Regions from separate parts of the Homo sapiens genome. Here regions 1, 3, 4 and 5 are each linked to region 2. Evidence: fine-mapped expression QTL. A gene starts in region 2. Each other region holds a variant in brackets. All regions are shown on one strand. Distances are between the middles of the regions. Region 1 overlaps CARD8 (caspase recruitment domain family member 8). Region 2 holds the start of PLA2G4C (phospholipase A2 group IVC). Region 3 holds the start of LIG1-AS1 (LIG1 antisense RNA 1). Region 4 overlaps CARD8 (caspase recruitment domain family member 8). Region 5 overlaps ZSWIM9 (zinc finger SWIM-type containing 9).

Region 1 (5,000 bases), 120 kb before region 2:
CATCACTTCCAACACATTGATCTATTATCACCCCCACCCCGAAGATATTAAGTTCCACTTGTACCTTGTCCCCAGCGACGCCTTGCTAACAAAGGTAAGCTGAGTGATTTAGGAGACCAGAGAAGATGACGATTATATTTCCAGGTTATCCCCTTGGCCCCTCCAGTTCCTCGTGGAACAGAAAGGGCAAGGCATGGTTTTCATGGACAGAAGCAGGAGTCACCCTTCCTGAGGTTCATCCAAGGTGCTGACTCTGGAGCTATGTGCTTCCCTAACCATCTTCAGTAGTGATTCAGTGCTACTGAAAAAGGAAATTCCCTTTTCTGGCTCTCAAGAAGGAGAAAGTTAGTGATTTTGGGGGACCAGCTGACAGAGAAGATGCAGAGATTTTTTCACCAGGTTGTTTTTTTCTTTTTTTAGAGACAGAGTCTTACTCTGTCACCCAGGCTGGAGTGAACTGGCGCAATCTTGGCTCACTGCAACATCCACTTCTCGGGTTCAAGCGATTCTCCTGCCTCAGCCTCTTGAGTAGCTGGGATTGCAGGTGCCCGCCACTATGCCTGGCTAATTTTTGTATTTGTAGTAGAGACGGGGTTTCACCATGTTGGCCAGGCTGGTTTTGAACTCCTGACCTCAGGTGATCCACCTGCCTTGGCCTCCCGAAGTGTTGGGATTACAGGCGTGAGCCACCACCCCTGGCCTCTCACCAAATTTTAAATGGATAATATGTGAATTACACTGACAGGCACACTCACATCTCTGGAGTAACCCTCCTCCTGTTCAGTAGCATCTCCCTCTAATGCACTTATTAAAGGCTCATATTCCCACACTCTCTTCTGAGTTAGTGATGAAGCAGACGTGCTGGTTGCTGTAGCTGCTGTGCACCTGGATAAAGTCCCACTTCTGTCCTTCCAGCCTAGGTGGGGCGATTATGCCAGAAAGATTACATTAAATTGTATCGTCCCCCCGTCTAATGCTCCAACATCCCAAGAATGAGAGGCAGGTGCCTGCCTGTCAGGACTTAGGGTGGTGAGTAACTGTGGGTACTTAAATACAGGAGAAAACATTTTAATCTGAATGATAAAGATGACTATTCCTAGAGTGGGCCAGAAATACATACATTCCAGTGAATTCTTGCATAACTTCTGTTTTCATTCTGAGCCCACCCTTTTCCTATCCTTCACTTAGTGCCTCTTCTTTCATCATTCCCAAATCTCATATGCTTACTTGCTTCATACCTTATTGATATACTAGAAACAAAATGGGATGGAAAAACCTCATTGTTTCACTGTCAGCTCTGTGAGCCTGTTTCTGGCCCGTCTTCACCTATTTCTTTCCTCTGAAACCCAAGAAGCCTCCTTGTTCTTTTTCTTTTCTTTTCTTTTTTTCTTTTTTGAGACAGAGTCTTGTTCTGTTGCCCAGGCTAGAATGCAGTGGCAATTGCGGCTCACTGAAACCTCCGCCTCCCGGGTTCAAGCGATTCTCCTGCCTCAGCCTCCCGAGTAGCTGGGATTACGGATGTGTGCCACCACGTCCTGGTAATTTTTGTATTTTCAGTAGAGGTGAGGTTTCACCATGTTGGCCAGGCTAGCCTTGAACTCCTGACCTAAAGTGATGCACCCACCTCAGCCTCCCGAAGTTCTGGGATTACAGGCATGAGCCACCGCGCCCGGCCGCCTCCCTCTTCGTACACAAGGACACTACTTAACATGAGTCTTGGGTCCCTTTCCCTCTTCCCTTATGTGGGAGCCACACCCGAGGCATCCTCTTTCCCCTCCACCGTCAATCTCTCCTACCCTAGGGCATCACTCCCTTCCACCCGCCAAAATCTAGAATGGCCCCCACATTGGAAATGCTGTCCTTGACTGCTCTCCCTCCTGCAGTCATACTTCCAATTTTTCCCTTATGCTTCTCAATGAATGGATCAACAGCTCCATGTACCCGAAGTCTCCATATTCCTCAGTTCTCACTCTGTTCCCAGATCTCTCTGTGTGGATGACCTTGCCACCCTTCCTTAGAATGGCTCTGTTTAGCGTCACCCAGTCAGTGACTTTGTGTCAACTCATTCTTACCTGGGGTCTCAGTGGAATGCTATTCCACTGACCACGCTCTTCCTTGGAAACACTCTTCTATAACAGCAGTTCCCAACCTTTTAGGCACCAGGAAGTAGTTTTGCAGAAGACCATTTTTCCACAGACCAGGGTGGTGAATGGTTTTGGGATGATTCAAGCACATTAAAGTTATTGTGCACTTTATTTCGATTATTATTACATTGTAATATATGATGAAATAATTACACAACTCACCATAATGTAAAATCAGTGGGAGCCCTGAGCT[T/G]CTTTTTCTGCAGCTAGATGGTTCCATCTGGGGGTAATGGGAGACACTTACAGATCATCAGGCATTAGATTCTCATAAAGGGCGTGCAACCTAGATCCCTTGCATGGGCAGTTCACAGCAGGGTTCACGCTCGTATGAGAATCTGATGCCACTGCTGATCTGACAGGAGGAGCTCAGGCGGTAATGTGAGTGATGGGGAGTGGCTGTAAATACAGATGAAGGTTTGCTCCCTCACTGCTCCTCTCCTGCTGTGCAGCCCGATTCCTAACAGCTCACACACTGGTACTGGTCTGCGGCCCGGGTGTTGGGGATCTCTGCTCTATATGATCCTGCGACACCATATTATCCCAATTTCCCTGTGACTTTTCTTTTCTTTCCTTTTTTTTTTTTTTGTGATGGAGTCTAGCCCTCTCACCCAGGCTGGAGTGCAGTGGTGTGATCTCGGCCCACTGCAACCTCTGCTTCCTGGGTTCAAGTGATTCTCCTGCCTCAGTCTCCTGAGTAGTTGGGATTACAGGCACACACCACCACACCTGGCTAATTCTTGTATTTTTAATAGAGATGGGGTTTCACAGTGTTGGACAGGCTGGTCTTGAACTCCTGACCTTGTGATCTGCCCGCCTTGGCCTCCCAAAGTGTTGGGATTACAAGCATGGACCACTGCTCCTGGCATCTCCGTGACTTTTCTGAGTCTCTCCTCAAATCGCCTCTGCAGGTTCTTGCTCTGAAACCTTCTCTGAATATTGAGTTTCCAGGGCTGAATCTTGGACTCTCCTTTCTCTTTTCTGTCTTCACTGACGGACTTGATGAATTCTTCGTCTCGTAACTGAATTCCCCACAAGCAGAGGATTTCTCAGTCTATATCTCCAGTCCTGAACATTCTCCAGAGCTCCAACTTGGAACCGCCAACCTCCCCTCTCCATATGAGTGTTTATTTGGCATATCTAATTGTATATATTGACTCAACTTTCTCCCTTTAAGCGATTTATTCAACTCTCTTCCCCATTCAGGGTAGAGACTAAATTTCATTGAGTCATTCAAGCCATACTCTAGTGTTCATCTTTAATTCCTCCACTTATTTTCTTTTCTTTCTTTTTTTTTTTTTTTGAGACGGAGTCTTGCTGTGTCACCAGGCTGGAGTGCAGTGGTGCAATCTCAGCTCACTGCAACCTCTGCCTCCCAGGTTCAAGTGAAGTGATTCTCATGCCTCACCGGGATTATGGTGTCTGCCACCACGCCCAGCTATTTGTATTTTTTTATTTTATTTATGTATTTATTTTTTAGTAGAGACAGGGTTCACCGTGTTTGCCAGGCTGGTCTTGAACTCTTGACCTCAAGTGATCTGCCCCCCTCGGCCTCGATTTCTTTTCTTTCCCACATCCAGCATCTCATCAATTTTGATTCTTTTCATTTTCATAGCATAACTTGAACCAGTTTTACTCCGTTCAGCTTCACTGCCAGCTTTAGTGCCATCCACTGCCATTTTTGCTAGAAATATGGATAAAGTCTTCAAGCTTATCTCACTGGTTCCATTGTTTTTCATTTACCACCTATTTTTAAAATCTAGGAACAGGGAGATTTTTTGCAAAATAAGTAATACCCCCATTACATGCAATTGGCCCATACAACAAATCTGCACATGTACTTCTTGAACCTAAAATAAATGATGGGGCTGGGCATGGTGGCTCATGCCTATAATCTCAGCACTTTGGGAGGCCGAGGCAAGCAGATCACTTGAGGCCAGGAGTTCGAGACCAGCCTGGCCAATATGGTGAAACCCCATCTGTACTAAAAATACAAAAAATTAGCTGGATGTGATGGCACATGCCTGTAATCCCAGCTACTTGGGAGGTGGAGGCATGAGAATTGCTTGAACCCAGGAGGCAGAGGTTGCAGTGAGCCAAGATTTTGCCACTGCACTCCAGGCAACAGAACGAAACTCTGTCTTAAATAAATCAATAAATAAAATAAATGTTGGAAAGAAAAAAAATTAAAATTTTTTAATTCTAATACACTTAAAAAATACATTACTACATCACACTTTGGCCAAAGATTCTTTAATGGATTCACGTTACACTTAGAACATGAATCAAATAATTTACTATGGCCTAGAGGCCATGGCTTTTTTTTTTTTTTTTTTTGAGACGGAGTCTTGCTGTGTCCCCCAGGCTGGAGTGCAGTGGGCGTGATCTCAGCTCACTGCAACCTCCGTCTCCCAGGTTCAAACAATTCTCCTGTCTCAGCCTCCTGAGTAGCTGGGACTATAGGCGCACGCCACCATGCCCGGCTAATTTTCGTATTTTTAGTAGAGACACGGTTTCACCATATTGGTCAGGCTGGTCTTGAACTCCTGACCTCAGGTGATCCACCCGCCTCAGCCTCCCAAAGTGCTGAGATTACAGGTGTGAGCCACTGTGCCCAGCTGAAGCCATGACTTCTTGTGACCCTAGAACATCTCAGTTATCCATCTCCTATCACTCTCTTCTCACTCATTATGTTCCAGCACTTCTGTCCTGAATTTTCATCCCTCAAATACTCCAAGAATTCCTGCTTCTGGGCTCTTACCCTTTGTGTTTCCCTTGCAAGACTGGCTCCTGCTCATCTTTCTAGTCTCTTTCTAGTCTTTGCCTAAAGATTTCTGCTTCCGAAAGCCTTTAGTAGGC
Region 2 (6,664 bases):
AATCTCATTTCAGGATCCTAACTCAATCCCAAAGTCCCTTTAGTCACATAAGATCACACATTCACAGAGGCCAGGCACAGTGGCTCACGCCTTGGGGAGGACTTGGGGAGGCTGAGGTGGGAGGATCACTTGAAGCCAGGAGTTCAAGACTAGCTTGTCCAACACAGCCAGACTTCATCTCCTCTAATTTTATTAATAAAATTAATAAAAATGTAAAAGGGCCAGGCGCGGTGGCTCACGCATGTAATCCCAGCACTTTGGGAGGCTGAGGCAGGTGGATCACCTGAGGTCAGGAGTTCGAGACCAGCCTGGCCAACATGGCAAAACCCCGTCTCTACTAAAAATACAAAAATTAGCTGGGCATGGTGGCGCGTGCCTGTAATCCCAGCTACTAGTGGGGTGAGGCAGGAGGATCACTTGAATCTGGGAGACAGGTTGCAGTGACCCGAGATCGTGCCACTGCATTCCAGCCTGGGCGACAGAGCGAGACTCCATCTCAAAAAAAAAAAAAAAATAGGTCACATCAAAGGTTTCAGCGATTAAGACCTGGATATCTATGGGGGCTGTTATTATTGCAGCCACCCCACATGGGATGATATGTTAGAGGAAAACCATCGGGAAATGGTCAGACAAGGCAAGCAGGATGCCTGGAACACCCACCCAGCCCTGGGCACCACGGGGCTGGCTTGGGGAAAACGGCTGCACGCGGAGCGGGGCCCAGGCTCGGGTCTTCCAGAGCAGGAGGCCTCTAACCCCGGGGCCCAGCGTGGAACAGGAGCTTCCGGGCATGAGAGTGTCAGGGTGTCCTGATACTCCCGCAGGGGGGACACAGGGCTCCCAGCTGTCCCCTGCCCCTCACACTCTGTTTCTGCCTCTCACATCTGCCCTCCCTCCTTCCCTTCTCTCTCATCAGGTTCCTCTGCCCTTGTCTCCCACCCGCCCTCTCTCCCCTTCCTTCTCTATCTGCGAGGCTTTGCTCTCTGCCGTGCAAGTCTGTGCCAGGCTTACTTTGCTGTCTGTCACTGTGACTCAGCCTCCCTGTCTCTCTTCCTGTGTCTCCATCATGGTCTCTTGTGCACACAATCTCTTGGGCATTCTGTTTCTATTTGTTGTAGCCCAAGAAGACAACATTGCCTTCCGAGTCTCCTTGGGGCTAGCAGTGGCCCTGTAGCCCTGTGTGGGCAGACCCAGGGGACATAAGCACAGGGGCTGCTGGGGACTTCTGGAGAAACATCTTTCCTGACCAAAAAGGACAGCCCTGGTTGTGGCAGCTCCTCCCCTCCTCCTGCCTTGACTAGAGATGATGGCTGGAGCCAAGTCACCACCTTGTAATGATGAGGAAAAAGAGTAACAAACTCTCCTGACGACCCTAAACCGGCGAACCTAGGGCAGCAGCTGCCTAACTGTGGGCTTTTGTTCATGGGAGTAGGGGAAGAATAAGCCCCAGGGCGATTATGCCACTCTAAAACATGGCTTTCAGCCGGGCACAGTGGCTCATGCCTGTCATCCCAGCACTTCGGGAGGCCGAGGCGGGCAGATCACCTGAGGTCGGGAGTTCAAGACCAGCCTGACCAACATGGAGAAACCCCGTCTCCACTAAAAATACAAAATTAGCCGGGCGTAGTGGCACATGCCTGTTACTCCCAGCTACTCAGGAGGTTGAGGCAGGAGAATCGCTTGAACCCGGGAGGAGGAGGTTGCAGTGAGCCGAGATCGAGCCATTGCACTCCAGCCTGGGCAACAAGAGCAAAACTCCGTCTCAAAAAAAAAAAAAAAAAAAAAAAAGACTTGTTTCTCATAGCTAAGAGTTCCTGATACAGCTCTGCCTTAAAGAACTGGCAAATTAGTGTGCATTTGTGTTTCAATTTCAAATAAAATGTTTAAGGCAAAAAAAAAAAGTAAATGTTGTATGTCAGGGGATCCCCACATTACTGGCTTTGTGTGGAGACCATGGTTCCTTTGGGCTTGGCTCTTCCTCCCTGCACCAGTGCAGGGCCCCAGGAACACATCTGCCACACACGGCCGCCATGTCCCTCTGCTGAAGCTAGTCAGGGTCATCCTCACTCCTCAGTGACCCTCATGATGGCTCCACCAGGTAGGTACTTTTATTCTCCCCATTTAACAGGTGAGGACACTGAGGGGCACAGGGATGTAAGTTACCTTCCCTAGGTCCACTATCTAGGAAGTGGTGGGCCAGGGTTTGGTCCATGCTGTCAGCTCCTTGACCCTGCATCTATAACTACTAACTATACTGTGGAGAGCCTCATGAGCTCCTGCGAGGTGTAGAACCTTATCCCGCAGGCGGGGCAGTGGCATGGTCAGGTCTAGGAGTGAAAAGATCCTGCGATGGTTGGAGTTGCGGGCACTGAAGAGGTGAGCCTGGCGTTAGGGGGAGCAGGGGAGACCATCTTCCCCCTGGTGAAATCCTGTTCTAAAATTGGTGATACTCCTGCCTTGGCCTCCCAAAGTGCTAGGATTATGGCCTCATATCTATTTTTAAAAAATAAGAATTCAAGCTGGGTGCGGTGGCTCGCAACTGTAATCCCAGCACTTTGGGAAGCCGAGGCAGGTGGATCACTTGAGTTCAGCAGTTCGAGCCAGCCTGGCCAACATGGTGAAACCCTGTCTCTACTAAAAATACAAAAATAATTAGCCGGGCGTGGTGGCAGATGCCTATGTTCCCAGCTACTCGGGAGGCTGAGGTAGGAGAATCGCTTGAACCCAGGAGACGGAGGTTGCAGTGAGCCGAGATTGCACCACTGCACACCAGCCTGGGCGACAAAGAGTAAGACTCCATCTCAAAAAAAAAAAAAAAAAATTCAAAACCCATCGAGTTGGGATGACGCTTAGTGCTGGGCTTCAGGAAGAGTAGGCAGGAGGGTAGTATGGGAGGTTTCTAGGAGCCACTCTTGGAAGCGGTGCTCCCCACAGATGCCCGATTGCACTGACTGGAACTCGGTCACATGACCACATAACTCGCTCACATGACCACACCTAGCTGCAAAGGTGCTGGGAAATGTGGTACCCTGTTGGGAGGCCACTTCTGGGCTTCAAACCTTCACTGTGAATGGAGCTCACAGGTTTTCTAAAAATGGACATTAAATGAACCAGAGTTGGCCCTAAGGATCTGGCTCACTGCAACCTCCACCTCCCAGGATGAAGCACCTGCCTCAGCCTCCCGAGTAGTAGCTGGGATTACAGGCACACGCCACCATACCGAGCTAATTTTTGTATTTTTAGTAGAGAAGGTGTTTCACCATGTTGGCCAGGCTGGTCTCGAACTCCTGACTTCACATGATCCGCCTGCCTCAGCCTCCCAAAGTGCTAGGATTACAGGCGTAAGCCACCACGCCTGGCCTCAATATTTCTTTTTCTGGGTATTTGAGTATGATATTATATATGATGGTTATTAGACAGCCAGATGCATAGGAGGATTAGCTAATCTGTTTTGAGGAATACTTATCTCCAATATAGTTATATAACGACAACATTCTTTTTTTGAATACTGGTCTCGGGTGCCTAATGACAGAAGGGTGACATCACTAAGGAAGCCTGGAAAGTCCCAGCCCTCCACGTGATCCCACGGATGAAAATAGCTCCGGGTGAGCTCTGGAACAGCTGAAAAAGCTGGAGCAACCAAGCAGGGCCTACAAGCCGAGGAGGGCTGTTTAAAGGCGCAGGGGCCATTTTACCTCCAGGTTGGCCCTGCTCAGGACCAGGAGGAAACACCTCCAGCCCGCGACCTCCTCCCACAGGGGGAAAAGGAAAGCAGGAGGACCACAGAAGCTTTGGCACCGAGGATCCCCGCAGTCTTCACCCGCGGAGATTCCGGCTGAAGGAGCTGTCCAGCGACTACACCGCTAAGCGCAGGGAGCCCAAGCCTCCGCACCGGATTCCGGAGCACAAGCTCCACCGCGCATGCGCACACGCCCCAGACCCAGGCTCAGGCAAGCCGTGGGGGCAGGGAGGGCTGTTTCATCCCGCTGGGGCGGCCATAACCAAGTACCAGGGATTGGGTGCAATTAAATAACAGGATTTCTTTTTCTTTTTTATTTTATTTTATTTTATTTATTTATTTATTTTTTTTTGAGACAGCATCTCGCTCTGTCGCCTAGGCTGGAGTGCAGTGACGCGATCTCGGCTCACGGCAAGCTCCGCCTCCGGGGTTCAAGCGATTCTCCTGCCTCAACCTCCCGAGTAGCTGGGATTACAGGCGCACACCACCACACCCGGCTAATTTTTGTATTTTTAGTAGAGATGGGGTTTCACCATGTTGGCCAGGCTGGTCTCAAACTCCTGAACTCGTGATCCACCCCACTCGGCCTTCCAAAGTGCTGGGATTACAGGCGTGAGCCACCGCGCCCGGCTAGGAATTTATTTTCTAACACTTCTGGAAGCTAGAAGTCCAAGATCAAGGTGTTGGCAGGGTTGGTTTCTCCTGAAGCCTCTTGCAGAGGCCCTAATCTCTCCTTATAAAACCAATCAGGCTGGGCGCGGTGGCTCACGCCTGTAATCCCAGCCCTTTGGGAAGACGAGGCGGGCGGATCCTGAGGTCAGGAGATCGAGATCATCCTGGCTAACACAGTGAAACCCCGTCTCAACTAAAAATACAAAAAATTAGCTGGGCGTGGTGGCGGGCGCCTGTAGTCCCAGCTACTCCGGAGGCTGAGGCAGGAGAATGGCGTGAGCCCGGAAGGCGGAGCTTGCAGTGAGCCGAGACTGCGCCACTGCACTCCAGCCTAGGGCACAAAGCGAGACTCCATCTCAAAAAAAAATAAAATAAAATAAACCAATCAAACCAAATTCCAGGCCACCCTCAGGACCCCACTTTAACTTAGTCACCCCTTTAAGAGCCTATGTCTGGCCGAGTGCGATGACTCATGCCTATAATCCCAGCGTTTTGGGAAGCCAAGGTGGAAAGCTCTCTTGAGCCTAGGAGTTCAAGACCAGCCTGGGTGACATAACAAGACCTGATCTCTACAAAACATAAAAAATTTAGCTGGAGATGGTAGCATGTACCTGCACTTCCAGCTACTCGGGAGGCTGAGGTGAGAGGCTCGCTTGAGCCCAGGAGGCTGAGGCTGCAGTGAGCCACGATCACACCACTGCACTCCAGCCTGGGTGACAAAGCAAGACCCTGTCTCAAAAAGCAAACAACGAAAAAGAATCCTATGTCCAAATACAGTCACATTCTGAGGTTCTGGGGGTTACAAGTCCAACATATGAATTTGGAGGTGGTGGGGGGAAGCTGATTAATTTCATAAGGGGGGTCTTGAAACTGCCTTCGCAGAAATGTAAGTAATGAGAGAAAGCTAACATGACTGACCATCTTGTTTCTAACCTCACAGGCTAGATTTTTTTTTCTTATTCTAGTGCAGAGGCCAAAATTACCATGAGAGGAATTTAATTCATAGTTAAACTTTGAGACAAAGAAAACTGACCCCCAGTCCTTGTTGAGAGATTGAAGCCACATTCATTTACTTTTTATTTATTTATTTAGTTTTGAGACAGAGTTTCACTCTTGTTGCCCAGACTGGAGTGCAATGGCATGATCTCTGCTCACTGGCACCTCCACCTCCTGAGTTCAAGTGATTCTCCTCCCTCAGCCTCCTGAGTAGCTGGGATTACAGGCGCCCGCCATCATGCCCAGGTGACTTTTGTACTTTTAGTAGAGATAAGGTTTCACCATGTTGGCCAGGCTGGTCTCCAACTCCTGACCTCAAGTGATCCTCCCACCTCGGCCTCTTAAGGTGCTGGGATTACAGCCATGAGCCACTGTGCCTGGCCTGAAGTCACATTCATAAGACAAGGTTAGAATCATGAAGGTGCTGGAACTTTGCTAAAGAACAGTCGTGGGTTGAAGAATGACCTGCCATCCCTTAGCTTCCTTTTCTATATGTGCTCCAGAGTCACGTAACCAGGGGTCGCATGATTTATAACTTCCCCAGCTACTTCTATAAATAATATCACTGTCGTGAAACACAGAACTCAGCTTTTTAGTGGGGTGTGGTAGCTAACACCTGTAATCCCCACTTCTTGGGAGGCTGAGGCAGGAGGATTGCATGAGCCCGGGAGAATGAGACCAGCCTGGGCAACATAGTGAGACCTCAATCTCTACAAAAAAATTAAAACTTTGCCAGACGTGGTGGTGCATGCCTGTAGTCCCAGCAACCCAGGAGGCCAAGGCAGGAGGATTGCTTGAGCCCAAGAGTTGGAGGCTGCAGTGAGCTATGATTGCGCCACTGTAGGGACCAGCCCTGCAGGGTCTGTGGGTCTTTCTCCCCATGTGCGGAGACGAGAGATCGTAGAAATAAAAACACAAGACAAAGAGATAGAAGAAAAGACAGCTGGGCCTGGGGGACCACTACCACCAAGACGCAGAGACCGATAGTGGCCCCAAATGCCTGGCTGCGCTGTTATTTATTGGATAATAAGGGGCAGAGTAAGGAGTGTGAGTCATCTCCAATGATTGATAAGGTCATGTGAGTCACGTGTCCACTGGACAGGGAGCCCTTCTATGTTAGGTAGCCAAGGCGTAGAGAGAGAGGATAGCTTATGTCATTATTTCTTTTATGTTCTTTTCAGAAAGATCAAAGACTTTAATATTTTAATACTTTCACTAATTCTGCTACTGCTATCTAGAGGGTGCAGCCAGGTATACAGA
Region 3 (5,750 bases), 37 kb before region 2:
CCAGCCCACCACGCCTCCCAAGCCCCTAAAGACCTCCAGTGAGTTTCTGGTCCTCTCCTCCGCCCTGCCCCACCTCCTGATTTTGGGGTCAGAAGTCTTTGGAGGATGATTAATTTAAACAAGGCATAGATTCTCAAACTTATTGCTTAAATGCCGAATCTAGAAGAATAATAGTTTTTATTACTCGGGTTTTTTTTTTTAATTATTATTTTTCCCCATGCATGTGGGAAAGGAGGAAAGAGCCAGCCATTCTTTAAAAAATCTTCCTAGGCCGGGTACGGTGCCTCACACCTGTAATCCTAGCTCTTTGGGAGGCTGAGGTGGGTGGACTACTTGAGCCCAGGAGTTCAAGACCAGCCTGGGCAACATGGCGAAACCCCATTTCTACCAAAAAAAATACAAAAATGACCTGGGTGTGGTGGCACGTACCTGTAGTTCCAGCTACTTGGGAGGCTGAGGTGGGAGGATCGCTTGAGCCCAGGAGGTGGAGGTTGCAGTGACCTATGGTCGCACCACTGCACTCCAGCCTTGGCCACAGAGCAAGAACTCCCCCGCCTCAGACAAAGTAAAAGATAAAAAGTATTCATAGCTTTCAGAAGTCATAGGTGTAAATTAAATGTTATTAATTAAGTTAGACAACCAAACTGAGTTACAGGATTTTAGAGGCTGAAGTTACCCTCTCAGGGTGGTCCAAGTGTCCATGAGGCCCCTGTGTTAGAAACAACACTTGCCGGGAGAATTTTAGGGATACAGAGTTGTATCTGATTTTCTGCAGCTGCTGGGAGGAGTGGGAATATTTTCTTCTCATGACGATGAGATTTCTTTTTACCACTATTCCTAAGTCTCCTATTTCAGGCCAAGTGCTAGAATTCCGCTAGTTAGCACTGAGGAGTAGACAGCAGGCCTGAGATCTCAGCTCAAAGCTAACAGAAAGGAAAAGGGTAGGTGTAGTTATATCTTCCATCTGCAGGGTCAGAATGATCTTGGGGGTAAAAAAAAAGAAAAAAAAAGTCTCAGGGTCAAAGAGTTTGCATCACCGTCTGAGCTCTCTCACCGCAGAAGCAGAGACCCCGACGGAAAGCGTTTCAGAGCCTGAGGTGGCCACGAAGCAGGAACTGCAGGAGGAGGAAGAGCAGACCAAGCCTCCCCGCAGAGCTCCCAAGACGCTCAGCAGCTTCTTCAGTGAGTTTCCCTTGCTCACCCCACCTCCCGGGGTTGTACAGGCAGGAGGCTGGTGAGCCTCTCTCCAGAGGCCTGAGATGCTGCGAAGACCCTTCTTCCTTTCCTGCTGGTTGGAAAGTCGGCCTTGTCTCTACCAGCCTGTCTCCCATCTCCCTGAGCACTGGGGTGGTGCTGGGTGCAGAATGGATGGGAGGTGGGGGCTACCGGAAGGAGAAAAGACCCACTGTTTTCTGTCTTCATTCCTAGCCCCCCGGAAGCCAGCAGTCAAAAAAGAAGTGAAGGAAGAGGAGCCAGGGGCTCCAGGAAAGGAGGGAGCTGCTGAGGGGTGAGTCAGTGTCCAGGTCTGGAAAGGTTCTTCGGGATGTGTTCCCTTCTCTGCATTCCGACAGCCCCACCCCCAGCTCAGGCTTCCTCCTCTTGCAGGACTTGGCAAACCTTTTCTATAAAGAGCCAGAGAGTAAATATTTTAGGCTTTATGGGACACATTTGGCCCCTGTTGCAAAACCATTCTTAGATCCCAGAACCTGTAGAAACGGTCCAGGGTCGGAGTTTGCTGACCGTGGCCCCAGCCACCCTCTGACCCTGCCTCCAGTCTTTCATCCTCAGTCTGATCCCCGTAGAGCCTGGGGGATCTTTCTAACACCCAGAGTTGACTCTGCCCCTCTAGGGTTCCCCAGAGCCGTCAGGAGAAAATCTAAGCCCATTTGGCCACTGGCTGCCACCTCCCTCTCTGGCCTCACTTCCTACCTCTCTGTTCCTCTGGCTCTGAACTCACCAGATTTTTTATTTTTGAGACAGAGTCTTGCTCTGTCGCCTAGCCTGCAGTGCAGTGGTGCTGTCTCAGCTCACCACAGCCTCCACCTCCCAGGTTCAAGCGATTCTCCCAGGTAGCTGGGATTACAGGTGCATGCCACCACACCCAGATAATTTTTGTATTTTCAGTAGAGACACAGTTTCACCGTATTGGTCAGGCTGGTCTTGAACTCCTAGCCTCAGGTGACCCACCCACCTCGGCCTCCCAAAGTGCTGGGATTACAGGCGTGAGCCAGTACACCTGGCCTGAACTCACCAGATTTAGTGTATGTGCTGGAAGCCTGCAGGCGCGTCTACTCTGCCTTAAAATTCACTGAACACCCCTTCTTTGCCAGCCCTGGGCGGCCCACGAGGATGAACCATAGAGAGCCGGCCGCCCTGCCCCAGCCCTCGTGATGTGCTTAGTGTGCTGGGGCTGTGGGACACTGAATAGGTTGTTAAGCAATTAATTGCTTCACTGTAATTTTGTTAATTATTTGAAGAGATGTCTGGGCTGATTCCCACGACATCTAACATGCACACAGGAGGCCGCACTGAAGACTGGCTGAATGGATGATTGGATGCGTGGGTGGATAAATATCCTATAAAGTAATGAGGTCACCCCCCC[A/CA]TCTCTGCCATGCTCAAAACCCATCTGCGATTCTCCCCAGCATAGAGGATATGCTGGGCTTCCCAGTGCCCTCATGAGCCAGCCCTGTCCACCTTACATTGCAGCCTCCTGGCATCTGCAGCCTTTTCCTGCTCCCTCTGCACACCATGTCCCCACGTGCTGTCATTCCTCCCTGCTTTTTTTTTTTTTTTTTGAGATGGAATCTCACTCTGTTGCCCAGGCTGGAGTGCAGTGGCACGATCTCAGCTCATTGCACCTTCAACTTCCCAGGTTCAAGCGATTCTTCTGCCTCCACATCCCAAGTAGCCAGAATTACAGGTGCCTCGCCACCAAGCCTGGCTAATTTTTGTATTTTTAGTAGAGACCGGGTTTCACCATGTTGGCCAGGCTGGTCTCGAACTCCTAATCTCAGGTGTTCTGGCCGCCTCAGCCTCTCAAAGTGCTGGGATTACAGGCGTGAGCCACCACACCCAGCCTCCTCCCTGCTTCTGAACATGCTTGACCCCGGCCTACAACACTGTCCCTAACCCACCCTGCCCAGCAGGCTTCCCTCAGGCCCCAACTCCTATTGCACCTGCTTAGGGAAGCCGGGTGCCTCTCCCTTCATGTGTGAGAGGAGGTGCGTGTCCCCAGCACTTGAGTCAGACTGTCTTTTATGTCTTGTCACATGGTAAAGAGCCTCCCTAACCAGACATAAGCTCCTTCCCACAGAGCCAGGGCTGTGGGAGGTCCCAGCCTTCTTAGTCTTCTTGCCTAGCTCCCAGCACTGGGGCTGGCCCCTAGGAAGCCCAGGAAATCTGCCATGAAAGAAATTTAAATGAGCACTTTCAGATTTTTTTTTTTCACTAGTCAATCATGGACTCATTTATTTACTCAGTAAGTATTTACAAAGGACTGATTACGTGTTAGCTACTGGATTTTAGGTGCCTGAGATCTGGTAGGAAACAAATCAGACAAAAATTCCTCTTTATAGAACTTAGGTTTTTTGGGTTTTTTGTTTTTTGTTTCTTGTTTTTTTTTTTAAAGACAGGGTCTTGCTCTGTTACCCAGGCTGGAGTGCAGTGGTGCTCCTGGGCTCGGGATCCTCCCACCTCAGCCTCTCAAGTAGCTGGAACTACAGGCATGTACCACCATGCCGGGCTAATTTTTGTTTACTTTTTGTAGAGATGGGGTCCTACTACATTGCCCAGGTCGAGCTCCTGGACTCAAGTGATCCTCCCACCTCAGCCTCCCAGAATGCTGGAATTACATGCATGAGCCACCACGGCCAGCCTGATTTCTTACATAATCATATATCCATCTGAAGTTATTTTTTTCCTCTAAAGATTGTGTTTTCAAATACAATGTGATGGTGTTAGCAGCGTGGACTTCATCCCCTCTTGAATTCTTGATGTCCTGAAAGCTAAAAAAAAATTAACGGAAAAGGGGTTTGGAATAATCCCTGCTGTTCAGCAGAAAGGACAGGTGGGTTAAAAAGTATGACGCAGTGAGTCCAAAATCTCTTTGATGTCACGCCTCTACAAATGAAACAGATAACGACAAGAAATTCTTTCAGCTTTAACATTTCATGATTACAGTTTAAGTCTAACAAAAAAGTGTTCGGAGGATTCTTGACATCAATTTTGTACCCCCAATTGAGACCTTATCAAGGAGGTTAAATAGCACGTTAACGTCCTCTCTGCAGTATTCCTGTGGAGGAAGGGAGCACTTTAGCCATTTTACACACATTGACATGATTAGCCCAGAGAGGTTAGGTCGGGCCTCGCCAGGTCACACAGGGAGGTGGGGGTAGGGCCAGGCCTGGGACCCTAAGGAATGTTTTTGATTCCTAGCAGTTATTTCTTCCCCATTGCCATATCGTGCCTCCTGAGTGTGTGTCCGTGTTTGTGTATTTATAAATATGTTTTCCAAATAAAATCAGTGTCCTACTGTATATAAAGTTCTGTTTTCTATTTCAAGTGATACTACGACTGCTTTTCTTTCTTTTGAGACGGAGTTTTGCTCTTGCTGCCCAGGCTGGAGTGCAGTGGCACGATTTCAGCTCACCGCGACCTCCACCTCCCGGGTTCAAGTGATTCTCCTGCCTCAGCCTCCCAGGTAGCTGGGATTACAGGCATGCGCCACCATGCCCGGCTACTTTTGTATTTTTAATAGAGACAGACACTTTTTTGTTAGACTTAAACTTTAATCATGAAATGTTAAAGCTGAAAGAATTTCTTGTCGTTATCTGTTTCATTTGTAGAGGCATGACATCAAAGAGATTTTGGACTCACTGCGTCATACTTTTTAACCCACCTGTCCTTTCTGCTGAACAGCAGGGATTATTCCAAACCCCTTTAATTTCTCCATGTTGGCCAGGTTGGTCTCAAACTCCCGACCTCAGTGATCTGCCTGCCTCGGCCTCCCAAAGTGCTGGGATTACAGGCGTGAGCCACCACGCCAGGCATGACTGCTTTTCTTGCACCATTCCTAGCCTGGTCACTTCCCCTCTGTCTCCAATGGCTGCCTCCAAGAGACAGGCAAACTTTCCCACTCTCCAATTTCCTCACCTCTCAGATGGGGGCACAGTGATGAGAGGAAGCATGTTCTTCCACCCACTCTTCCCCACGTGCCAGGCACTCAGCAACGGGCTTTCCCTGACGCAATGCTCCAAATCCTCACAACACTGCTGGGAGTAGATTCTGTTGTTATCCTGGTTTCCTGGGTGAGAAAAGTAAAGCGGGGAGGTGGGACAGTATTGAGGACTGGCTAGGAATCCCAGCTCCACCTCTCTCAGCTGTGTGACCTTGAGGAAGTGACTTAGCCTTTCTGTGTCTCTCTTCTGAGGATGTGAAACACTTAGCCCAGGGTCTGGCCTTGATTATGACCAGCATGTTGTCACGGTAACTGCTGCTACTATTCTTATTTGTTTTTAATGCCATGCTCAGGCCACACAGGTGGGGAGTGGCAGCATTGTGGTTCTAGCCAGGCTGACTGGCTCTAGACTCCCCTGCCCACCACACTCTGCTGCCTCATTGTAATGCCGGCCACCGCTTGTTAAACCCCAAGTTCATACCAAAGGCCATGCACAGCCCTGCAGTGGCACTATCTGTCTTGGCCATCCATGCCCTGTGTGAGCATCAGAATCAGCTGAAGAGCTGAAAAATAT
Region 4 (5,000 bases), 110 kb before region 2:
CCAAAGGTAGAAAGGTTTTGTTTGAATTCCATTCTGTGTCTTTGATGGCTGCTCAGATAGATTTTTTTTTTTTTTGGTGAGACAGAGTCTCGCTCTGTCGCCCAGGCTGGAATGCAGTGGCGCAATCTCGGCTCACTGCAATCTCTGCCTCCTGGGTTCAAGTGATTCTCCTGCCTCAGCCTCCAGAGTAGCTGGGATTACAGGCGCCCGCCACCACGCCCGGCTAATTTTTATATTTTTAGTAGAGACGGGGTTTCGCCATGCTGGCCACGCTGGTCTCAAACTCCTGACCTTGTGATCTGCCCACCTCGGCCTCCCAAAGCGCTAGGATTACAGGTGTGAACCACCGTGCCTGGCTGCTTAGAGATAGTTTTGAGGTCTCGCTTTCTGCTGTGGCTGCTGGGCCTCGCAGAGGTGACTGTTTCTGCTCGCTGGTGGTCAGGTGATTGAGCATCTCACAGCAGCCCTGTGACGGAGAGAAGTAACATCTCTACCCTTGTCCATCATAGACGTGTTCACAGACACAGCTGAGCTACCAGTTCTCTGCTGAGGCACCAAAAAGAAGTCCTTCTGTCCTGTGCTTTCATAAGTACGCAGCCAATCTTTCCACAGTGTAAAAATAAAAGCAAACTATACAAGAATTTATAAGTTCACATTCACAAGAAATCCTTTGGCCCTGAGATATCTTTCAGTAAAATTTCATCAATATGTCTCTTTGTGCATAGAGACATATTCATTCATATCTGTGTATCTACCTATCACAATCTTTATATCAGTTGAATACCTTAATCTTTATATCAATTGAATCATAGCCTACGTGCTACTTAATATACCATATAAATAACTTTTTATGCCACTACTTGCTTTACTATTTTTTGTGCTCTCTAATGTTTCTGCCCCTTCTTCCTTAGGCGATAGATGATGAGGAAGATCGCTTCCATGGTGTGCGCCTGCAGACTTCGCCCCCAATGGAACCCCTGAACTTTGGTTCCAGTTATATTGTGTCTAATTCTGCTAACCTGAAAGTAATGCCCAAGGTTAGTAGAATTCAAACCCAACTCAGCAGGTTTCAGAGTGTTTTATATTTCTGAAACAAATGGAAGAATCTTAGCAAAATGCAACATTTTTCTTTTATTAATCACAAATATGCCCTTTAAAAAAATTGAAATTATAGAAAAATAGTATTAATCATATTGCATATTTCCAAGACCCTAAGGCAGAGGTAACATTTTAGTATTTGACATACTTATGTTAGGTTAAAACTACACATTGAGTTTCCCAAACTGAAATTTCCATTTCCCTGTTATAATTATCTTCAGTCCTGATGTCTTGCCTAACTAACGCACTTAATATGTATTTGTTAAGGTAGTTGAAGGAAGAGCTGATTTTATGTTATATATTTCATTTTATATATTTTTAAATGGAGATTACTATATAATTCTGTGCAATTTAAATTATTCCTACATACAGATTTACTGGGACATGATATGCCATGTAGCGAAATCCCTAGAGCTTTTTTCATTATTTCATGATTATTCAACATTTAGTCGCATGTAATTTCTCCCAAGAAGTGCCCTGGCAAGAAGTCTTTCCATTCATATGGTTTTACATTTTTCCTGCAGGGCTAGAGTGTCCTAAATGAAATTACTGATTCAAAGAGTATTAACCAACTTAAAGCTAGTATATTTCCAAATAGATTTCCTTCCTTCCTTCCTTCCTCTTTCTTTTTTCCCTCTTTCTCTCTTTCTTTCTTTCTTTTTCTTTCTTTCTTTCCTTCCTTCCTTCCTTCCTTCCTTCCTTCCTTCCTTCCTTTCCTTTCCTTTCTTTCCCTCTTTCTCTCTTTCTTTCCTTCTTTTTTGATGGAGTCTCGCTCTGTTGCCCAAGCTGGAGTGCAGTGGTGTGGTCTTGGCCCACTACAACCGCCGCCTCCCAGGTTCAAGTGATTCTCCTGCCTCAGCCTCCTGAGTAACTGGGATTACAGGCATGCACCACCACTCCCGGCTGATTTTTTATTTTTAGTAGAGA[C/T]GGGGTTTCACCATGTTGGCCAGGCTGGTCTCGAACTCCTGACCTCGTGATCTGCCCACCTTGGCCTCCCAAAGTGCTGAGATTACAGGCTCGAGCCACCACACCTGGCCCCAAATAGATTTTCAAAGATGTCTCACAGCATATGTTCTCTAAAATAAAGATGAGGTTGTCCAGCACAATATACCATCTCTAGAACAAAGTATCAAGATTTAATTGTTTTCCAGTTTTAATGGGAAAACACATCCCAGTGATTTCAAGGTCTTTAATTCAGAATGGGACGGACCAATGTTATTGTTTTGGCGTAGATGGCTTTTTCCTGTTTGCGGACCTTGGAAGAGGTGAGAAACAAGAGGGTTAGGTGTCAGTATTTACATGTCTCCTTTTTGGACACTAAGGCTAAAATAGGAAAAATGATTTTTCCAGCCATATAGACAACAAGATGTGAAGCTTATTGCAGACATCAGTTCAGTGATCTTTTTCTAAGTATACTAGAGCATAAGAATTTAATAAAGTGCCCAACCTTGCTCTGATTTTAGTTCCCAGTTTCCTTGATAAACTCCACAGCAATTAATATGAAGCAGGGACTGCCTTCCCCAGAAGTTTGGTTGTCCTTCAGGCAAGATACATTCTTGGCTGTTGCAGAACCTTCCATAAACATTGCTGATATAGAAATAAATAAATAAAATGCAGGGTATTTCATCCAGAATGATACAACATAGTAAATGTGAGATAAGAAGTGGCAATTGCAACCTGAGGTGATAATCTTTTTTTGAGACAGAGTCTTACTCTGTCGCCCAGGCTGGAGTGCAGTGGCGCAATGTCTGCTCACTGCAACCTTCTTTCCCTGGGTTCAAGCGATTCTCCTGCCTCAGCCTCCTGAGTAGCTGGGACTACAGGCACCTGCCACCACGCCTGGCTAATTGTTGTATTTTTAGTAGAGATGGGGGTTTCAACATATTGGCCAGGCTGGTCTTGAGCTCCTGACCTCAAGCAATCGGTCACCTCAGTCTCCCAAAGTGCTGGGACTACAGGTGTGAGTCACCGCGCCCGCCCTAGAGGTGATGATCTTGAGCGAGGTAAACTCTCCTCAGAGTCATCTTCCATTTAAAAAGATTCCAGCCAACAATCTCACCCTTTGTAATTTTTTAAATCCCTATTTTCCAAGAGCTGGGTCGGGGGGCTTGTTTTCTGAAGAAACTAGAGATTTGCATGAGCTAAGCTTTTCCTAATTCTGTCCTGCATAAGGGGCTTTCTTGCTCCCCAGGGCAGCTTTTTTTAGGAATCCTGGGGAGACTGGGTGCAAAACAGAGAGGGACCTGAAATGGCTTATCTGACCCCGGCTTCCCAGCGAGGCTCAGAGAGACCTGATGGGGCTGCTTTGGAAGCTTTCTTGCTTCTCTATAGAATCTCGGATTCTGAGCTGGTCGCATCATTAATGAGGGGCCTCAAAACCCTCAAAATCTAAGACGTTTGTATTCAGTTGGTAGCTCAGATAGTTTTTCTCTGACTCATGTGGTGTTGACAGCTAGGTTATTCTTCCCTTCCTGGTATAAAAGCATTTCCTAACATTGTAAATGTAAAGAGCTGTTTACCTCTCTCCCTCTGTTTCCCACTCAACCAGCCATGACATTGCACAGGAAACGGGTTAAGTTCCATTGGCCAGTTCACTGTAGGGAGCCGGGCCTTTCCACCCTCCACTGCTTCAAGTCAACTGATGTGTTTCCTCTAGGAGTTGAAATTGTCCTACAGGAGCCCTGGAGAAATTCAGCACTTCTCAAAATTCTATGCTGGGCAGATGAAGGAACCCATTCAACTTGAGATTACTGAAAAAAGACATGGGACTTTGGTGTGGGATACTGAGGTGAAGCCAGGTAGGTGAGTGGGCGAGGCTGGCATTTTTAGACAGGGATCCATCATGTACCTCTATCCTTGGATTTCAAAGAAGAAATCTTGTTTATGGTTCTTTCCCAGAGAAGAAAAGAAATCTATTGTCAGTGTTAAAACACATGGACACAGGGAGGGGAACAACACACACTGGGGCCTTTTGGGTGATGTGGGAAGGGAGAACATCTAGATAAATAGCTAAAAGGCCAGATACGGTGCCTCATGCCTGTAAACCCAGAACTTTGGGAGGCCGAGGGGGGAGGATCACCTAAGGTCGGGAGTTCGAGACCAGCCTGCTCAACATGGTGAAACCCTGTCTCTACTAAACATACAAAATTAGCCAGGTGTGGTGGTACATGCCTGTAGTCCTGGCTACGTGGGAGGCTGAGGCAGGAGAATCACCTGAACCCAGGAGGGGGTTGCAGTGAGCCAAGATTGTGCCACAGCAGTCCAGCCTGGGCAATAAGAGCGAAACTCCATCTGAAAAAAAAAAAAAAAAAAAAAGAAGAAGATAAATAGCTAATGCGTGCAGGGCTTAATATCTAGGTGATGATTTGATAGGTGCAGCAAACCACCATGGCACATGTTTACCTTTGTAACAAACCTGCATGTCCTCCACATGTATCCCAGAACTTAAATTAAATTAAAAAAAATAGTTTGAATAAAATAAAATGTTCTTGCCAAAAAAGAAAAAAAAAAGAGAAATCTATTGTCAGTGTATTATCAGTGTGATAACACAACAATGGTGGCATTTGTTCATCTCTAGGAAGTGAAATGCTCAAGGGGCCTGGGAGAGGGGTGGAAACCCTCGAACCTAGGGGGTAAAGAACAGAAGATTCTAAGAGTCAGAAGAAACATAAGGACTATTTAGTTCCACTTTCTTCACAATTTAATCATTTCTTCCATACTCATGCTTTTCATTTTCGGGGTGTCATATTCCCTGAGGTAATCTGTTAAAAAGTTCTGGAAAATGTTTTATCCATTCACAGAAGCTCAACATCATAAACACAATTTTTTAAAGTTTAGAAACTCCCAGACAATTTGCCAAAGATCTCCTGATAGTTCCTTGAATCTCTGGAGATACATTTATA
Region 5 (6,664 bases), 74 kb before region 2:
TTCACCATGTTAGCCAGGCTGGTCTCGATCTCCTGACCTCGTGATCCACCCGCCTCAGCCTCCCAAAGTGCTGGGCTTACAGGTGTGAGCCATCACGCCTGGCCCCATTGAGTATTCTTAAAAGGGATACACTTGCATCAATGCTCGCCATTCTCAGAAGGCAAAGCATACACGTAAGAGAACGCTGCAACGTTTCCGGGCAAGGTCTCTCTTTTCAGGGCTTGCTTGCTGGTTACCCTGGTGCCTGCCACAAGTGAGGGAATGGAGATGTGACTGGACCCCAAAGCCCATCATCATCAGGCAGGGCAGGTGATAAAAGGTGTTAAAGGTTGGGTGCGGTGGCTCACGCCTGTAATCCCAGCACTTTGGGAGGCCGAGGCAGGCAGATCACCAGGCCAGGAGATCGAGACCATTCTGGCCAACATGATGAAACCCCATCTCTACTAAAACACACACACACAAAATTAGCCAGGCCTGGTGGCGCACGCCTGTAGTCCCAGCTACTCAAGAGGCTGAGGCACAAGAATCACCTGAACCTGGGAGATGGAGGTCGTGCTGAGCCAAGATTGCGCCACTGCACTCCAGCCTGGGAGACAGAGCGAGACTCCATCTCAAAAAAAAAAAAAGGTATTAACACCTCCCTGGGTGAAGTCGCCCCCCAGTCTTGCCCTTAAATCATGCCTTGTGGCTTTGGGCGCATCCTTCTTGTCTGATCCCCTCCAAAGATCAAGAGAGCAACCCAACTCAGGAAGTGCAGGCACTTTTTACAAATAATCCTTCCTTTGGAAGACTGCTGGGAAGTGGAAAGACTGATTGTTGCTTGACCTAGGCTTGGGATGAAAATTTAAAGCTTGCTGTCTGTCTGTCTATCTATCTATCTATCTATCTATCTATCTATCTATCTATCTATCTATTTAAAGGGTCTCACTCTGTTGTCAAGGCTGGAGTACAGTGGTGTGATCATAGCTTACTGCAGCCTGAAGCTCCTGGGCTCAAGCAACCCTCGTGCCTCAGCCTCTTGAGTAGCTGGGACTACAGATGCATGCCACCATGCCTAATTTTTTTTTTTTTAATTTTTTGTAGAGACAGGTGCTCGTTATGTTGGCCAGGCTGGTCTTGAACTCCTGGGCTCAAGTGATCCTCTCGCTTCGGCCTCCCAAAGTGCTGAGATTACAGGTGTGAGCCATCGCACCTATTATATTATCAATATTACATGTTATGCGTTACATATTATAATATTAATATAATATATAATATTATATTATATAATATATAATATATATAATATTATATATAATATATATAATATAATATAATAATAATATAATATATAATATATATAATATAATATAATATATTATAATATAATATATAATATATATAATATATATAATTAATATATAATATATAATATATATAATATAATATAATATATAATTATAATATATAATTAATATAATATATTAATTATTACATTATACTGTTATATTACTACTGTATTATTAACATAATAATATAGAACTCTTTCATTAGATTTTATAAGTGAAAAAAAGGTGAAATTTCTGTGTAAAAGTGATGGATTGAACACCTCTCTAGTTTCACTCTCTCTTGAACCTCAATTACATCTTTTTTTTAAAATGGCTTTTTTTTTTTTTTAAATCAGAGGCAATATGATAGGGACAGAACTTTGGAAACTGGAAAGCAGCTGGACATGCTAATCCCACCCCACCCCTAAAAACCCATGAATCCTAAGCCAGCAATTGAGGGATGCTGAGAACCGGTAGCAAAGTCCTCAAAAGGAGCTGGCAACACCAGGCCAGTTTTGCAGAAGGCAAAATAAAGACGAACTGAGGGCTGTTTCAGCAGCAGCTAGACCTCCAAATCTCGTTTCCCCTCTCCCCTTACTCTTCCCCCACCCCCAGTGACTGGGGGTTTATTCTGTAGACAGGGTGAAACAGAAAGGGGCCGCTGGCTTTGGGGACATCTGGCCCATCTGAAGATGAGGGAGGGGGATTCTGAACCCCAAGTGGGTACTGAGTGCGTCTTGCTGGCTGAATGCCTGACAGCTCCCTGCCTCTGCCCCTGCAGCTCCCAGAAGCTGGCAGCCTGGCCCTGGCAGCCTGGCCTTCACCCCCCGCCAGGAGGCCAGAGGAGTTTTCTCAGGGGGATTTGACCAGCCCCAGAGGAAGAACGAAAGATGGTGACATCTGGCACTCCCCAACGTATAAAGCAAGATGCAAAACAGCATGTACAGGCCGGGTGTGGTGGCCCCGACCTGTAATCCCAGCACTTCAGGAGGCCAAGGTGAGTGGATCACTTGAGGTCAGGAGTTTGAGACCAGCTTGGCCAACATGGTGAAACCTCGTCTCTACTAAAAATACAAAAATTAGCCAGGCATGGTGGTGCATGCCTATAGTCCCAGTTACTCAGGAGGCTGAGGCAGGAGAATCACTTGAGCCCAGGAGGTGGAGGTTATAGTGAGCCAACAGCGTGCCACTGCACTCCAGCCTGGGTGACAGGAGTGAAACCCTGTCTCAAAGAACAAACAAACAAACAAACAAAAACAGCGTGTACACTAGGCTGCCCTGCTTGCTGGGGGTGGGGGGTGGCGGGGCAGAAAGAGGAAATAAAGTTAAAAATTAAAGTTAAACATACAGACATGCAAATTGACCTGTATATGTGCAGAGCTGCGCTGTCCAATCCAGAAGCCACTAGCTACATTAGGTTGTTTACATTTCGATAAATTAAATGACAAATTCAGTTCCTCAGTCATACTGGCCTCATTAAGCATTCTGTAGCCATGTGTGGCCAGTGGCCTCTGGATTGGACAGTACAGATAAGAACCATTTTCTTTCTTTTTATTTTTTTAGACAAGAGTGTCACTCTGTTACCTAGGCCAGAGTACAGTGGCATAATCTCAGCTCACTGCAACCTCTGCCTCCTGGGTTCAAGCGATTCTTGTGCCTCAGCCTCCCGAGTAGCTGAGATTACAGGCACCTGCCACCATGCCTGGCTAATTTTGAATTTTTAGTAGAGATCAGGTTTTGCCATGTTGGCCATGCTGGTCTCGAACTCCTGCCATCAGGTGATCCATCTGCCTCAGAGTCCCAAAGTGCTGGGATTACAGGTGTGAGTAACCATGCCTAGCCTGGATAAGGAACATTTCTATCATTGTAGAAAGTTCCACCGGGCAGTGCTGGTCCATAGGATAGAAAGCGAGATATGATTTATAAGCTGCTAATAACTCTGCAGGGGAGGGGACCTGGGGGACAGGATGTGATAAGACTTTTCACCACATACCTTTTTTAGAACCATGTGAATGTATGACATATTCAAAAAGTAAATATTTAAATGTTGCTTCACTAATCTGTCTCTCCTGTCCTAGAACTTCTTCCTCCTTTCTTTCAAGAGCATTAAGGGGCTGGGCACGGTGGCTCATGCCTGTAATCCCAGCACTTTGGGAGGCCAAGGCGGGGGGATCACCTGAGGTCAGGAGTTCAAGACCAGCCTGACCAACATGGAGAAACCCCGTCTCTTCTAAAAACACAAAAATTAGCATGGTGGCGCATGCCTGTAATCCCAGCTACTCAGGAGGCTGAGGCAGGAGAATCGTTTGAACCCGGGAGGCGGAGGTTGCGGTGAGCCAAGATTCCGCCATTGCACTCCAGCCTGGGTGACAAGAGCGAAACTCCGTCTCAAAAAAAAAAAAAAAAAAAGTATGAAAGCAGGTCAAAACACAGAC[G/C]CAGGAGCCAACCGTGGTTTAGCCGAGATTCCAAGACAGCCTTCAAAATGAAAAGACAACTCCCCTTCCAGGGAAGGCTCTGATCTATGAATGAGCTGTTCTGCACAGGGACAATCCTGCAGAGGGTGGGTTCAGGGAAGAACAGCTGAGGCTTATTTATGTCATGGTGGGTAGTGGAGGAGAGTTACTAGATCAGCAAAGACCAGTGGAGTAGGAAGTGCATGTGTGTTTGTCCCCATGGTGAAGGTCATGGGTCTGGATCCAGGCTGTGTGGGTCCGAAGCCCAGCTCTGTCACTAAATAGCTGTGTGACTTTGAGCCAGTTACTTGACTTCTCTGTGCTTCAGTTTCCTTGTCTGTAAAATGGGGATGAGAATGGTGGACTATTTCCTCATAGGGCTCAGGTGAGATGAAAATGAGTTATAGTATGTAAAGCACTTAGGGTAGTGCCTGGCATATAGTAAGTGCTTGATAAACATTAGCTAAAATTATTATTATGTCGGGACAGAGGCCTGGGCTTGGGCTGGTGGCTTGAATCAGGGCTTCTTACTGGGCATGAGATGAAGACAGGAAGAGTGTGCCAGAGCTGAATCTCGACTTTACCCTGCCTTGGGACCTCTTCCACACACAAGGGAGACAAAGGCACAGCCAGGAGGAGAAACCAGTTCTTCCCCTACTTTCTCATCTTTCTTTCCTCTTTAAACTTCAAGTTCACCCCAAACTTGAAGTTGGATTAAAGCCGCAGAGATTCCTTATGGAGCAGCAGCCATCCTCACTGTTCCTCCAACACAAGCTTGCTCGTGCCTCTGGGCCTTTGCACTGGCTGTTCCTTCTGCCTAGAATTCTCTTCCCTCTGATGACAGAATGAGGGTCCCTTGCCTCTGTTCCATCTCCTCTGCTTCACCATCATTTGCTAAAGAGACCTTCCCTGACCAATTCAAACAGCACCCTTAGAACTGTCCCGCTCCAGGCCCCGGCCTTTTTCTCCTTGATGATAACTTATCGCTCCATCACATTACAGGACATAGCACTCTTCCTTCTCCTAATTCTCCATCTGCATGGTGGGTTCAGGTGTGTTCTCCCCTTGAGAACATTCATCAAACTAAGTATTTATCATTTGTGCATTTTCTGTTTGTGCAGTTCAATTAAAAAAAAAAAAATTTAAGTAGGCCTGGCGTGGTGGCTCATGCCTGTAATCCCAGCACTTTGGGAGGCCGAAGCAGGACTGCTTCAGTCTGGGAGTTCAAGACTAGCCTGGGCAACATAGGGAGACCCCCCCCCGCCAAACATCTCTACAAAAACTAAAAAATTAGCTGGGTGTGGTGGTGCACGCCTGTTGTCCCAGCTGCTCGGGAGAATGAGGTGGGAGGATTGCTTGAGCCTGGGACATCGAGGGTGCAGTGAGCCATGACTGCACCACTGCACTCAGCCTGGGTGACAGTGAGATCCTGTCTCAAAAAAAAAAAAGATTAAAAAAAAAAAACTTACATAGCATTTGTCATCACTGTGGCTCCCCTTCTTGCTAGCACCCAGCCAGCCCCTAGTGATGTTACATCATATTTGGACATGTTTGTCAGTTGTTGGTTTTTCCCGCCAGAACTGCAGGGGCGTTCTGGCAGTTACCTCTGCAAGGCAGCCAATAGCCATAGGTGGCTATTTAAATTTCAATTAATTAGAATAAATTCAGGCCGGGCGTGGTGGCTCTCGCCTGTAATCCTAGCACTTTGGGAGGCCGAGGCGGGCGGATCACAAGGTCAGGAGATCGAGACCATCCTGGCTAACATGGTGAAACCCCGTCTCTACTAAAAATACAAAAAAATTAGCCGGCGTGGTGGCACGCCCTGTAGTCCCAGGTACTCGGAAGGCTGAGACAGGAGAATCGCTTGAACCCGGGAGGCGGAGGTTGCAGTGAACCCAGATCGCACCACTGCACTCCAGCCTGGGTGATAGAGCACTCCAGCCTGGGTGACAGAGTGAGACTCCGTCTCAAAAAAATTAATTAATTAATTAATTAATTCAGTTCCTCAGTGTACTGGACACATTTCAAGTGCTCAGTAGCCACTTGTGGCTGGGGGTGCAGAATCACAGAACGTTTCCATCCTGGAAGAAAGTTCTACTGGGCAGCACTACCCTAGAAGGTAAGCTCTCTGCGGACAGAGACCACGTGGGTCTGGTTTGCTGCTGCATCCCCAATGCCTCGGTAAGTACTTATTGAATGAATGAACGGATGAATGGAGGAAAGGAGTGAAGGGATGAGAGGGCGGATGAAGGCATGAATGACCCACGAGTCTTCAGCGCGGCTTTCCCCCGCCCCCTCCCCCGGCCTGCCTCTCTCGAGACCCCACCTTGGCCTCGGGGTCGGTGCGGAAGAGGCCCTCGAGCACGTGCAGGGCGTCCAGGACGCCGTGGTCGCGGCCCTTGCAGTAGGACAGCAGGCGGCGCACGTCGGCTGGGGCCACGAACTGCTTGGAGATCTTGTTGGTGGTGCGCACCGGCAGGCAGGCGTTGGCCAGCAGGTGGCCCGGGCGGAAGTAGTAGGCGAACTCCAGCGGGCAGGCCGGGTGTGAGTGGGTCAGCTGGCACTCCGTCACCACGAGGCGGTCCCGCAGCGGGCTCAGCTTGACGATGATGAAGGCGGGGCAGCCGGGCTGGGGAGGCCTGTGGGAGGAACCACCACCGCCCTGGTCACATCACTCTGCTGCCCTCTTCTTCCTTTCCACTCACCTTTTTTTTTTTTTTAAACTAAGAATTGTTTCAGGCATAGAGAAGAGTAGAGGGCCCTAAGAATATGCCAGCTGTGTGACCTGGGGCAAGTCACTTCAAGTCTCTATGCCTCAGTTTCCTCATAGGTTACAAGGAAGGTCCTACTCATCATACCTTCCTCATAGGATCGTCATGAGCATGAAAAGAGTTAATATAGGTA

What was found.
Region 1: its variant is fine-mapped to the expression of PLA2G4C in lymphoblastoid cells (TwinsUK, PIP 0.95).
Region 3: its variant is fine-mapped to the expression of PLA2G4C in sun-exposed skin (GTEx, PIP 0.97). The same link has a PIP of 0.9 or more in sigmoid colon and unexposed skin.
Region 4: its variant is fine-mapped to the expression of PLA2G4C in sun-exposed skin (GTEx, PIP 0.92).
Region 5: its variant is fine-mapped to the expression of PLA2G4C in pancreas (GTEx, PIP 0.94).

The regions. Positions count from the first base shown.
Region 1 is chr19:48,225,532-48,230,531 of GRCh38, reverse strand. It overlaps CARD8 (caspase recruitment domain family member 8), which reads left to right. Exons shown (of 14, transcript NM_001184900.3): 10 at 1-94. Among named protein-coding and RNA genes, the nearest start is that of CARD8-AS1, 28 kb to the left of the region's middle. The variant T/G (reference allele first, on the strand shown) is at 2,338.
Region 2 is chr19:48,107,770-48,114,433 of GRCh38, reverse strand. It overlaps PLA2G4C (phospholipase A2 group IVC), which reads left to right and starts at 3,617. Exons shown (of 17, transcript NM_003706.3): 1 at 3,617-3,947. RefSeq lists an enhancer at 3,642-3,801.
Region 3 is chr19:48,145,520-48,151,269 of GRCh38, reverse strand. It overlaps LIG1 (DNA ligase 1), which reads left to right. Exons shown (of 28, transcript NM_000234.3): 7 at 1-38; 8 at 1,060-1,182; 9 at 1,429-1,507. LIG1-AS1 (LIG1 antisense RNA 1) reads right to left here and starts at 5,413. Exons shown (of 3, transcript XR_007067281.1): 1 at 5,388-5,413; 2 at 5,152-5,302. The variant A/CA (reference allele first, on the strand shown) is at 2,603.
Region 4 is chr19:48,217,767-48,222,766 of GRCh38, reverse strand. CARD8 (caspase recruitment domain family member 8) reads left to right here. Exons shown (of 14, transcript NM_001184900.3): 11 at 912-1,037; 12 at 3,755-3,896. Among named protein-coding and RNA genes, the nearest start is that of CARD8-AS1, 35 kb to the left of the region's middle. The variant C/T (reference allele first, on the strand shown) is at 2,026.
Region 5 is chr19:48,182,190-48,188,853 of GRCh38, reverse strand. It overlaps ZSWIM9 (zinc finger SWIM-type containing 9), which reads right to left. Exons shown (of 4, transcript NM_199341.4): 3 at 6,087-6,399. Among named protein-coding and RNA genes, the nearest start is that of ZSWIM9, 15 kb to the right of the region's middle. RefSeq lists a silencer at 226-458 and an enhancer at 2,052-2,111. The variant G/C (reference allele first, on the strand shown) is at 3,743.